Linked DNA regions of Homo sapiens. Each later gene encodes a partner of the first gene's protein in a complex. Each region holds a gene or a part of one and is shown in the gene's direction. Other genes may lie near its edges.

Region 1 (5,270 bases):
TATTCACCTCCCAAAGGCCCCACCTCTTAATACCACCATAATGGGGATTATGCTTCAACACAAGTATTTGTTTCTTGTTTTTGTTTTCAACATAAATATTTGGAGGGTAACCATTCAGATCATAGTAGTACCAGTATCCAAAACTGCCACCAAATAGTTTGTTGTAAGTTAAGATAATTGCAGAGCATCACTTAACTTGAAAAGCATTTTCTAAAATGTCCAAATATTAGACACAGTTGAATATCCCATAGATATATATCTATTCAGTGTGCAATTTTGATTCATTGGCTTATTTAGTTATATATTGTGACGGTAACAATGCTCTATTTGGGCCGGGCGCCGTGGCTCACGCCTGTAATCCCAGCACTTTGGGAGGCTGAGGCGGGCAGATCACCTGAGGTCAGGAGTTCAAGACCAGCCTGGCCAACATGACGAAACCCTGTCTCTACTAAAAGTACAAAAATTAGCCGGGCGTGGTGGGGCGTGCCTGTAATCACAGCTACTCAGGAGGCTGAGGCAGGAGAATTGCTTGAACCCCGCGGAGCTTGCAATGAACCCAGATCACGCTATTGCACTCCAGCCTGGGCAACAAGAGTGAGACTCCGTCTCAAAAAAACAAAACAAAACAAAAAACAATGCTCTATTTGACATATCTCTTTTTAACTGGTGACAAATACTTGTAAGAGTCTAAAAGAGACTAATAGTACTTTCTTTTGCTTTTTCTCCCACATGGTCTGACCAACAAAGAAAACTCTATGACTGCTAGATTAACAAATAACTTCAGAGTCTGCTCATTTAAATAAATGTTATTTAAGTAACATTTAAATAAATAGTGTTAAATTGGCATCTGGAATTATGTGTAAAATATTTCAGAATCTCACTTAGTAAGTCCTTCTCAGATTATATCTAGTTGTTTTATCCTGAAGTCCTCATTTTGAGAAGCCTGCCGTGATACAGAAGGAGGCCACTGGTGTAGCATAGTCACAGACTACTTGCTCAGCCCCGTGGGTGCTCCCTTCTGCCTACCCCTGACTTTAGCCACACCACAATATTTCTGCGTTTTTGAAGGTGACACCCATTTTCTTATTGCCCAGAATGCTATTTGGCACTCTTCCCACTCCCACCCATAATATTATTTATTCTGTGCTCCTTAGGCTTTTTATTCATATCTCTACTGCAGCATTTATCATCTTATAATGTGTGTTTTACTGATAATCAAGTGAAGTGATTCTTTACGCTATTTTTTTTTATGGATGGACAATACACACATAGGATTCAAAATTCAAAGACCATAAGAAGTTACAATGAAAAGATCCTCCATCCATCCCTGTCTGTAGGACATCCAACTTTCTCTTTCCTCAGAGGCCACCACTGATAGCAATTTATCCAGTATCCTTCCAAAAATATTTTACATTTATACACACACACAAACACACACAAAATTCTACTGCACATTATCCTGTATCTTGCTTTTATTGCATTTGACAGCAAATTTTGGAAATCATCCCATTATTAGCACCTGGAGAAGCCGTATAGTATACACTGGTTATAAATAGGGATTCTGAAACCAGATTCTGGTTTTGAATCATGTTTTCACTACTCATTACCTGTTACCAACCTAAGTAACAAACATAGAGGCTCTCTAAAGACAAATACATTTATTTGGGAATAAAGCATTGTAATGGGAATCCATATGCTATAAAGTACATGTGTATTCAAGGAGGTAAAGGAAGACAAAGGTTTTTAAAGAAAAAAATAAGGAGGGTTACAATAACAAGGGCGATGCCAGTCCAAGGTTGGGAAGGCAGTTGTTGGACAAATGGTCTTGTAGAAGTATTTTTTGTGTGTGTAAGGTTTTGATGGCCTGTGTTTATGGTTGTGGCTCTTACCATCTTTTGTGATAGTTTTTGTTATTAGGCATACAAGCGTGAGAACTTTCTCTTTATGGCTTTTCTTGGCTCTGTGTCAGGATTTTCTTAACATTAGTGATTTCATTTTGATTGACAACTTTCCCACTGTACAATTTCACACTTTAGGCAATTTACTCGAGCTCTCTGAACCCCCATTTTATGATCTGTAAAACAGGTATAAAAATAGTAATTTTTCACAAAGTTGTTATGAAAGCTAAATGATTTAACATATGTAGAGAGCTTTTTAGGACATTATCTGGCACATGATAAGCAGTAAATAATTATGAAAAAGAGCCTTCTTATTTTTTACTAGATAGAATGATGTACTGTAATTTATTGCTAATCAGTCAAATTGCTTCAGTCTTATACTACAAACAGTGCTGCTGGAAACCCCTGCATATATTATTTTGCATATTTTCAAAAATAGTAAATTCCTAGGGGTGAAATTTCTGATGTAAAGATAGGTGCATTTTAAAATTTTGACAGGTATTACCAAATTTTCCTTTATGAAAGCACTACCAATTTGTGGGGCCACCAGCAATGATTGAGAATTAAGGTCTGGGAGGCTTATTCAGGATTTTCCATTCCTATAGCAGAATACTATGACTGGCCTATGGTGAATAGTAGATGCTTAATAAATGTTAGTAAATTGGATGGTAAATAGTATACGAAAAACAGTTGGGTTTGGGTGAAAACAAGAAAAACTTTTAAAAATCTACTCTGGCATCTTTTGCTAGCAGGCATTGACAATTAGGAGAAGGCAAGGTGTTAACTTTTACTGATCTCCCACTTTTTTTTTTGAGACAAGGCCTGGCTTTATCACCCAGGCTGGAGTGCAGTGGTGCGATCTCAGCTCACTGTAAACTCCGCCTACCAGGCTCAAGCCATCCTCCTACATCAGCCCCCTAAGTAGCTGGGACAACAGGGGCGCGCCACCACTCCTGGCTAATTTTTGTGCTTTTTGCAGAGACGGGGTTTTGCTATGTTGCCCAGGCTGGTTGCGAACTCCTGGGCTCAAGGGATCCGCCCGCCTCCACCTCCCAAAGTGCTGGGATTACAGGCATGAGCCACCGCGCCCACCCCTCTAGTTTCCAGTTTAGTCGGAAAGATTAAAAACGCCAGCCTTGTTTTCCTAGTGCTGTTTTTGGTTTTTACCTCGGGTCTTTTGTCGTGCCTTAAAATCATGTCTGGTTGCGCAAGTGAGGGAAAGGATTGGGTAAAGGGGGCGCCACCGCAAGTTGCTGTGCAACATCCAGACATCACCAGACCCACCACCTGGAGCCTGGCCTGGCGGTGTCAAACGCATTCTGGTCTCATCTTTTTAGAAACCCGTGGATGCTCAAGGAATTTCCGGATAACGTGATCCCGGATGCGCTTGACTGACTTACACGGAACGAGCAAAGCGCAAAGCAGTCCCTGCTAAGGACTTAGTTTATGCCCTCAAGCGCAAAGGTCGGACCCTCTATGGTGTTGGTAGCTATATGCACGTACCTCATGTACATTTCACCTTAAATGGCTTTCAAAGAGCTAGATTAATTTAGTGGATAGATCAAAATGATTTATGACCCCTCGCCCCCCAGTGATAGGAAGAGCGAACCAGCTCTTCTTTAGATAATAGTGAGTGGCTCTGAAAAGAGCCTTTGGGTTGGACAAGAGCTTGAGAATTTACTTGGAGCTGGTGTACTTGGTGACGGCCTTGGTGCCCTCCGACACCGCGTGCTTGGCCAGCTCCCCCGGAAGCAGCAGGCGCACGGCGGTCTGGATCTCCCTGGAGGTGATGGTCGAGCGCTTGTTGTAGTGCGCCAGGCGGGAAGCCTCGCTTGCGATGCGCTCGAAGATGTCGTTGACGAAGGAGTTCATGATTCCCATGGCCTTAGAAGAGATGCCGGTGTCGGGGTGGACCTGCTTCAGCACCTTGTACACGTACACGGAGTAGCTCTCCTTGCGGCTGCGCTTGCGCTTCTTGCCATCCTTCTTCTGGGCCTTGGTCACCGCCTTCTTGGAGCCCTTCTTCGGGGCGGGAGCAGACTTGGCCAGCTCGGGCATAATGAAACAATAGTGGCAAAACCAAAACAAGAAGTCGGTCTCCTCTTTTTATATAATAGTTTATGCGGCCGAGGTAGTGGGAAGGTCTCTGCTGATTGGTAATTATCCGTGGATGACGACAGATGCCAGTTTTGCCCAATCAAAATAGGTATCCTGCATAATCGAGTCCTATTGGTCTAAATAAAAATAAAACGTAAGCCAATCGCACAGCTTCCTTTTCGCGCCCAGTAGAGGCTATAAAATGTACGTTTTTCTAGTTTCACTTCAGTCTTTCTTGACCGTATAGATAATAGGCCTTTTGCCATGTCTGGGCGTGGCAAGCAGGGAGGCAAAGCTCGCGCCAAGGCCAAGACCCGCTCTTCTCGGGCCGGGCTTCAGTTTCCCGTAGGCCGAGTGCATCGCCTGCTCCGCAAAGGCAACTATGCGGAGCGGGTCGGTGCTGGAGCGCCGGTGTACCTGGCGGCGGTGCTGGAGTACCTGACCGCCGAGATCCTGGAGCTGGCTGGCAACGCGGCCCGCGACAACAAGAAGACTCGCATCATCCCGCGTCACCTCCAGCTGGCCATCCGCAACGATGAGGAGCTCAACAAGCTTCTGGGCAAAGTCACCATCGCACAGGGTGGCGTCCTGCCCAACATCCAGGCCGTGCTACTGCCCAAGAAGACCGAGAGCCACCACAAGGCGAAGGGCAAGTAGAAGCCTGGATTAGTTTGCAGCAACTCAATCCCAAAGGAACCAAAGGCTCTTTTCAGAGCCACCTACAATTTTGTGGAAGAACTGAGCACTATGTTTAATGTAATTTCTCGTCTTTGCCTACTTCTAAACCACTCCAAAGGTTACGTAGATCAGTCTTCGGTGTCTTGGTTAGGTAGTGACAATCTCGTTAGCTTTATAAAAAGCCTGGATAACATTAAAAGTATTAAACACGCCTTCATCTTAAGCTTAGTGGAAGAAAATTTAGTTTTTCCTAAGCTGGCATTATCCAAGTATGTTGAATTCTGTATGGTTCACCGTCGGGTTTTACTTTTAGTCTGTTGAAGCAAACATGTCTGCTTTGGGGCCAGATGTTTTCTGGGTCTTGGTAAATAACAAACCGGGCATTCGACGTTCAATCCAAATCTAGATCAACGACTTGGATTCTTCATTTCTGAGAAATATCTCTCGAATCTGTATAATTAATTGCATTTGAACATTAATGATTGAGTTGAGAATAATTATTAGACTAATTAGAACAGTTACTTATGGTGCCAGGTAGTTCTCTTTGAAGCATTTTCTGAAAATTCATTGAAATTAAAATTTCCCGAGCTTTCCCAC
Region 2 (6,997 bases), on another chromosome or scaffold:
CAGCCAGATAGCAGCAGGGCTGACGCTGGAGTCAGGTCTCCTGGTGCTCGGTGTGCTTTTAGTTCTGCTGGAAGCAGAATGTCACAGGAGCGTATGAACAGAATCCTCAGTTATGTGACATAGGTAGCTGGTGCTGGTAGTTCAAGAAAGGGGGAAGCCAGAATTGTTGGTGCAAGTTTCCCTGGGTGGAGCCTCATAGAAGGTAGACCTGTATGAGTACACCCAGCTGTGAGGGTGGGAAAGAAGGCGGGTTCCCAGGCCAGCTGGGACCATATCCTCAGACCTCTTTGCCACTGAACTGGCCGAGGCCTGGCTGATCAGGCCTTTTTCTATGTTAGATCAAGGTTCAGCAGATTGCCATGGAGATGCAGCTGACTCCTTTCCTCATCCTCCTTCGCAAAACCTTGGAGCAGCTCCAAGAGAAGGACACAGGCAACATCTTCAGCGAGCCGGTCCCTCTGTCTGAGGTAACCGAATTGGACGAAGTAAGAATCCCTTCCCCTCACTCCACCTTCTCTCTGTTCCTCTCCCAGTTGGACCCCTGCTGCAGGTCTGGGCCAGGACTAGATGGGGACCTTGAAGAGAGGGGCTGGTGGCTCTGGGGCAGGATGAACTGGAGCCACATGTATCACCTGGACTCTGTCTTGTCCCTGTCACACCCCAAGGGCCCAGAATGGGAGGCAGTCTGCACTCCTTCCCCAGAGGCAGGGACTGAGTCTGCCAAATGAATAATCCCAGGGCAGGAAGACACTTTCGGGGTGCTGAACCCTAGAACGGAGACTTTAGAAGGCTCAGCACCTAAAGAACCAGCTCTGAAGCCCTAGGTCCTGACTGGCAGACTCTTCTCTCTAAAAGGTATAAAATGAGAGGCCTGAGGCAGCAGCCTCCTTATAAGTTACTGTTAAGTAAAAAGAGCTGTAGGAATGCAAGGTGGTGTTTATTTTCAGAGGAGTCCCCAAGCCATTTTCTTACTAAAGCCTCATATAGTCTAGAAAGTATATTTGGCTCTACTTTCATCATTTTCCAGGAGAGGAAAAGTAGGCCCAGAGAGGTTAAGAGACTTGCCAAAGTCACACAGCTTGTGACTGGTAAAGTCAGGACCAGAATCCAGCTTTCCTTTCCCCTGTGCTATATGCCTGCCTCTAACTGTGGTGGGAGGAGGTTGCTGGATGTGTTTCAGGGGGGCTTGTTAGGAGCAGGGTTCGGGGCAATAAGGAGGATATCTCCACTTAAAACAAACCTGCCCTGCCCTTCCAGGTACCTGACTACCTAGACCACATCAAAAAGCCCATGGACTTTTTCACCATGAAGCAGAACTTGGAGGCTTACCGCTACCTGAATTTTGATGATTTTGAGGAGGACTTCAACCTCATCGTCAGCAACTGCCTCAAGTATAACGCCAAGGACACCATCTTCTACCGGGCAGCAGTGCGGCTTCGTGAGCAGGGTGGTGCTGTGCTCCGCCAGGCCCGGCGCCAGGCAGAAAAAATGGGCATTGACTTTGAGACGGGCATGCATATCCCCCACAGCCTGGCTGGAGATGAGGCCACACACCACACTGAAGATGGTGGGTGATATATCACACACACATATAAGAGGCCAATGCCGGGGATGGACAGCTTTCCAAAAGTCCCCTCCTGGGAGCAGGCAGTGTAGGCAGAAAGCAGCTAGGCTGAGCAGTGGCAAGCTATCCCCAGGAATGCTCCCCAAGAAGCCAGACTGGGTGAATGGATAGCAGTGCCCGCCATTCCACATCTTGGTGCTGCTATTTTACAGCTGTTCCTGGTGAGAAGCCCAGGGGGGATGAGTGGGTTTCTTGCTGCCTGCCCAGGTTCAAGGGGCCCTGAGGGCTGCCCTGAGTCTGACCTTTCCCCTCCAACCCTACCCCTAGCAGCCGAGGAAGAGCGGCTGGTCTTGCTGGAGAACCAGAAGCACCTGCCAGTGGAAGAACAGCTAAAGCTGCTTCTGGAGCGGCTGGACGAAGTGAATGCCAGCAAGCAGAGTGTGGGCCGCTCACGGCGTGCAAAGATGATCAAGAAAGAGATGACGGCACTGCGGCGGAAGCTTGCCCATCAGCGAGAGACGGGACGTGATGGCCCTGAGCGGCATGGCCCCTCGAGCCGGGGTAGTCTGACACCCCACCCGGCAGCCTGTGACAAGGATGGGCAGACAGATAGTGCGGCAGAGGAGAGCAGCAGCCAGGAGACAAGCAAAGGTCTGAATCCCATGGCAAGGTGGACCCCAAAGCAAGTCAGACTTTGGCTCTGCAGCACACACTCAACCCCTGCCATTCCCCAGGCAGAGGTCCCTCCTACACAGCTAGCTGTACTTTCTCCCTCATTCCCCAATCAGGGGCCTCTTAGCTGCCTCTCTGGCTATTTGTATAAGAGTTAATCTTCCAAATTCCAAGCCCCTAAAATGATCTCCCCAACGTTAGCTGGAGTAATGGTCCTATATGCCCAGGGCATGACCCTGGATATCTACCCTTCTCAAATCAGGCCCCTCACCAACTCTCCTTCTTTCTTTCTCTGCTCCAGGCCTGGGTCCCAACATGTCCTCAACCCCCGCACATGAGGTGGGCAGGAGAACCTCAGTTCTGTTCTCCAAAAAGAACCCGAAGACAGCTGGACCGCCCAAGAGGCCGGGCCGGCCCCCCAAAAACCGGGAGAGCCAGATGACCCCCAGCCACGGAGGCAGTCCTGTGGGGCCCCCCCAGCTCCCCATCATGAGTTCCCTGCGTCAGCGCAAGCGGGGTAGGAGCCCCCGGCCCAGTTCGAGCTCAGACAGCGACAGTGATAAGTCCACAGAAGACCCCCCAATGGGTGAGCCTTACCATCACCCAGCCCCCCAAGAGAGTGAGCAAAGCTGCCATTCTTCCCAGCATACTCCCAGTTACCCCTTTATTTGCCCATAAAAGAGCGAGCTAGAAGGGTCCTTAGGAATCCTTTAACTCCACTCACTCATCTTACAGTTGGGAAAACTGAGGCCCAGAGACACTACGACCCAGCTAAAGTCCCATCCAGGGCCCCCTGCCTCCATTGTATCACTTTACCTTTTCTCTTCTCACCTTCCTTGGGGATCTCCTGCCCTTTAAGCCATTTGTGTCCTAAAGCCAGTAACTGCCGAGGGAAGCAAGGGGTGGAGCAGGGCTGTGGCCAACTGTGGTAGACACTGCCCAGAGCTAGCTCTGCTGGCCAAGGTTGGAGGAATTTTCCAGCACAGAAGGGGAACCCAAGCTCCAAGTCCCTCTTACCTCCATGTCATCTCTGATCTACATCTTCCTGACCGGTTCCTTCCCTCCTCCCCTTCCCTTCAACCAAGACTTACCAGCCAATGGCTTCAGCGGTGGAAACCAACCAGTGAAGAAGAGTTTCTTGGTATACCGTAATGACTGCAGCCTTCCCCGGAGCAGCTCAGACTCTGAGTCCAGCAGCAGTAGCAGTAGCAGCGCTGCTTCAGACCGGACCAGGTACCAGCCCTCCAGATCGAGGCCAACCTCAGGGGATGCCCTTCCAGGGCTCTTGGGCCTGTGTAGGTTTCCCTGTTGGAAGTGGGGTGGCAGCCATCTCAGTCTAGATTAAGATGGCTCAAACTCAAGGTTCTCTGCTAAATAAATAAATCAGTGTTACCATTAATAGAACAGAGAGAACCATCCTGGATTAAGGTGATGATTAGAGTATGCACTCCTGCCGCCACTGCTCAGGCTAACCCACCTCTGTTAGGTCATCAGCCTAGCCCCTGTGGGTGTTTGAATTTGAAATTCCTCATATAGCCTCTGCTTTCCAAAAGTCTCAGACCCTGCGGGCTTTAAGAGCTGAGGGCACATACCATGCTGTTCCCCATTCTTCCCCTCCTTTGAGCTGAGCTCCCATTGTCTTGTCCACAGCACAACGCCCTCAAAACAAGGCCGGGGCAAACCCTCCTTCTCTCGGGGCACTTTCCCAGAGGACAGCAGTGAGGATACCTCAGGCACTGAGAATGAGGCCTACTCCGTGGGCACTGGCCGCGGCGTGGGCCACAGCAGTAAGTTCCCTTGCCCAAGGCCAGGGATGCTGGGGACCCAGTGTCAGGGTCTCGCCAGCCCCCCAGCTGCTGATCCACCCCCTCTCCCCCATTCCTGTGAAGTGGTAAGGAAGAGTCTGGGCCGGGGAGCTGGCTGGCTGTCAGAGGATGAGGACTCCCCGCTGGATGCTCTGGACCTCGTGTGGGCCAAATGCCGAGGCTATCCATCATACCCAGCTCTGGTATGCTTGCTTCTGTTACACTTCTTGCTTTCCAATCCCAGAATACAGATTCACAGTTAGCAGACTTTTCCTACTCCCTGCTGAGCTGTGGGGCACAGAGTTTCTTGGTAAGGTAGACTGGTGGGCAGATACAGCTTGAGTACCACTTAGAGGCTCCCACTCAGTTTCTCCATCTCTCCCTTTTGCTTCTCTTTGCTCCTTGGGCTCTGAAATAATTTAGCATGGAAAGAAGCTGAGGGTCAGCATTGCAGTTCTAGTAGCATGATACCCTCTCTGTCCCCACTTCAGACATACTCTCTAAGTTCTTGAGGAGGAAAAGCCTTGGGAGGACATGGACTGAACCAAACTGGGCTCTTATTATATCCTCAGATCATTGATCCAAAGATGCCCCGAGAAGGTATGTTCCACCATGGGGTTCCCATCCCTGTGCCCCCACTGGAGGTGCTGAAACTTGGGGAGCAGATGACCCAGGAAGCCCGAGAGCATCTCTACCTCGTCCTCTTCTTTGACAACAAACGAACCTGGTAAGGAGGGGAGCATTTGGTGTGACTCACAGCCACAGATGCAGCCCTGTGTGGTATGGGGGCAGACTGCCAGGAAACTCCAGCAACAGGCAGACTGGGCTATCACAAGTCAGTGGGGGAGGGACTTAGAACAGTTTTTTGAGCGAAAGGGTTGTGTCGACCATGTGTCTGAGAGGCTGAGTGGGCACTAGTGGACACAGCTATAGCTAGAAACCAAAGGACCATCAGAGACTTATGACAAATATAGAGGTGGCTCCCACCCAGACTCAGATGGCTTCTAGACTTAGTTTTCCCACCTCTGCCTCCACAGTGACAAAATGAGGATAAAGCAGGCATAAACATTCAGGCTCTGAATCCCTGTTCTGTCACATTTACACATGTAGTCTTTTTGTTAATTGTCTGCAGAGGATATTCAATGTCAGTAAAGTCTGCCTAGAGCCTATGGCACAGGGTAGCTATTTCTGGTGAGGTCAGGGTGCCTCCTTTTTGTACCCATAAATACCCTGTGATTACCCTCCCGCCGCCACCACACAGTATAACTGTTGACTGGGCTCTTTCATCTCTAGACCATGAACAGTCCTTTGAGGGCAGGGACCATCACAGAGTCTGGCCAGAGTGGGTGCTTGGGTGGTGTGTTTGAGTGAATAGAGGAGGAAGGCTGGTCCTTGTTCTCCCTGAGATGATTTATTTGATCTTCACCTTATCCTATAGGCAGTGGCTGCCCAGGACCAAGCTGGTTCCTCTGGGTGTGAACCAGGACCTAGACAAGGAGAAGATGCTGGAGGGCCGCAAGTCCAACATCCGCAAGTCAGTACAGATCGCCTACCACAGGGCTCTGCAGCACCGCAGCAAGGTGCAAGGCGAGCAGAGCAGTGAGACCAGCGATAGTGATTGATACTGCTCAACACAGCCCAACCTATAGTGCCCTGTGACTTCTCTCCTCCCCTTTGCTCACTGTCCTGGAGTGGCACCGGCCTCTGCACTGACTCATTTCTGGTCTTGGGGCCAGTCTCAGGGGAAGCTGGGTGGGGGAGGTCCCTCCTGCCCTAAGTGCAGCTGGACTGTACAGAACACTCCAAGGGCCAATGGCAGTTCAGCGCAAGGAGAGGGAGGGCCCACAGGTCAGAAAAAGCTCCAGAGACCTCACAGCATTGTAGGGCGGGGTGGTGGGCCAAAGTTAGGACACTGCGTAAAACAGGCCATCCCACCACCTCTACCTGCTCATGCCAGGAGAATCCATAACTGCCTAGAGGCCTGGGGCCCCTACCGGTCGTGAGGTGAGTGGGCATCTGTCCAGCCTGGAAGAGGGGCACTAGGTGACTCCCTCCCCTGCTGTTGTAAATACTGTAATTATCGGAGAATTTAAATTATTCTCATTTGTAACTGCGTTTCCGGGTCGCGCCAGAGTCATTTGGTACTAAAAAAAAAAAAAAAAAAGACTGGGGGCTGTCCCCATTTCCCTTCTCTTTCCCATAGATTCCCCCACCTTTCAAACTGGTTTGTATTTATTTCAAAGGAAGAAAATATATTGATTCTTAGAAAATAAACTGTCAATTTAGAATTCTTTGTTCTTGCCCCCTGCCAGGGCAAAGGGGATACAAAGGGAGGTTCTGTGCCCCAGGGATGATACATAATTGGGCCCAAGTGGTTGCTGACTGCTGTGCATGCTACATTTCATAAGACACAGCAAAGAGAGCCCCTGTTGCCCATGCATGGAGTGAGTGGCAGGCCCTGTGTTGAGCACCTTTAGACATTCAGCTTTGCGTAATCCTTGCAATAACTATAGGGTAGTTTAATAATAGACTGGTTATCTCCACAAAGATGCTGAAGTTTCAAAAAATTATCTTGCCTAAGTTCCTACAACTAGGAAGGTGCAGAGCTAGAATTGGAACCCAGGTCTGTTTGCAAACCTGGCTCTTCAACCAGTATGCTGAACTGCCAGGGGAAGAGTCAACTATCGATTCCTACTTGGCCCTTAGAGGCCTCAAGTCCTTTGCCAGTGGCATGGCCCAAGTGTTTCAGCATCAATACAGCTGAGACCTTCCCCACTGCTTAACCGGAGACAGAGCTGGGATGGAGACGGTTGCTCTTTGCTCACCCCCAACCTCAGCACCTTCTTTCCAGACTCCACCGACATTTATTGAAGGAATGCCTTCCAAGTGCTAGGCGCCTGTGGGATGGCATGCCTACAGATAGGAACAGTCACAGGAAGAAGGGGCGGCCCAGGCC

Evidence for each region.
Region 2: the proteins of H2AC13 (region 1) and BRPF1 are in contact, whole or in part, in a crystal structure (PDB 4QYL), measured with the Homo sapiens proteins. Residues at the interface, in NP_003500.1 of Homo sapiens: Ser2 (codon at 4,263), Gly3 (codon at 4,266), Arg4 (codon at 4,269), Gly5 (codon at 4,272), Lys6 (codon at 4,275), Gln7 (codon at 4,278), Gly8 (codon at 4,281), Gly9 (codon at 4,284), Lys10 (codon at 4,287), Ala11 (codon at 4,290); in NP_004625.2 of Homo sapiens: Ile652, Phe653, Val657, Val662, Asp664, Tyr665, His668, Cys704, Lys706, Tyr707, Asn708, Ala709, Asp711, Thr712, Ile713, Phe714, Arg716.

What each region holds. Positions count from the first base shown.
Region 1 is NC_000006.12:27,803,951-27,809,220, forward strand, and holds H2AC13 (histone H2A type 1), read left to right. Parts: upstream 1-4,222; 5' UTR 4,223-4,259; coding exon 4,260-4,652; 3' UTR 4,653-4,717; downstream 4,718-5,270. Other genes in the region: H2BC13 (histone H2B type 1-L), read right to left, coding at 3,576-3,956. UniProt on the Homo sapiens protein: Core component of nucleosome. Nucleosomes wrap and compact DNA into chromatin, limiting DNA accessibility to the cellular machineries which require DNA as a template.
Region 2 is NC_000003.12:9,741,687-9,748,683, forward strand, and holds the end of BRPF1 (peregrin), read left to right. Parts: intron 1-338; coding exon 339-485; intron 486-665; exon of another isoform or gene 666-855; intron 856-1,257; coding exon 1,258-1,567; intron 1,568-1,891; coding exon 1,892-2,215; intron 2,216-2,537; coding exon 2,538-2,822; intron 2,823-3,321; coding exon 3,322-3,469; intron 3,470-3,886; coding exon 3,887-4,023; coding exon of another isoform or gene 4,024-4,125; coding exon 4,126-4,244; intron 4,245-4,613; coding exon 4,614-4,768; intron 4,769-5,479; coding exon 5,480-5,663; 3' UTR 5,664-6,329; downstream 6,330-6,997. UniProt on the Homo sapiens protein: Scaffold subunit of various histone acetyltransferase (HAT) complexes, such as the MOZ/MORF and HBO1 complexes, which have a histone H3 acetyltransferase activity.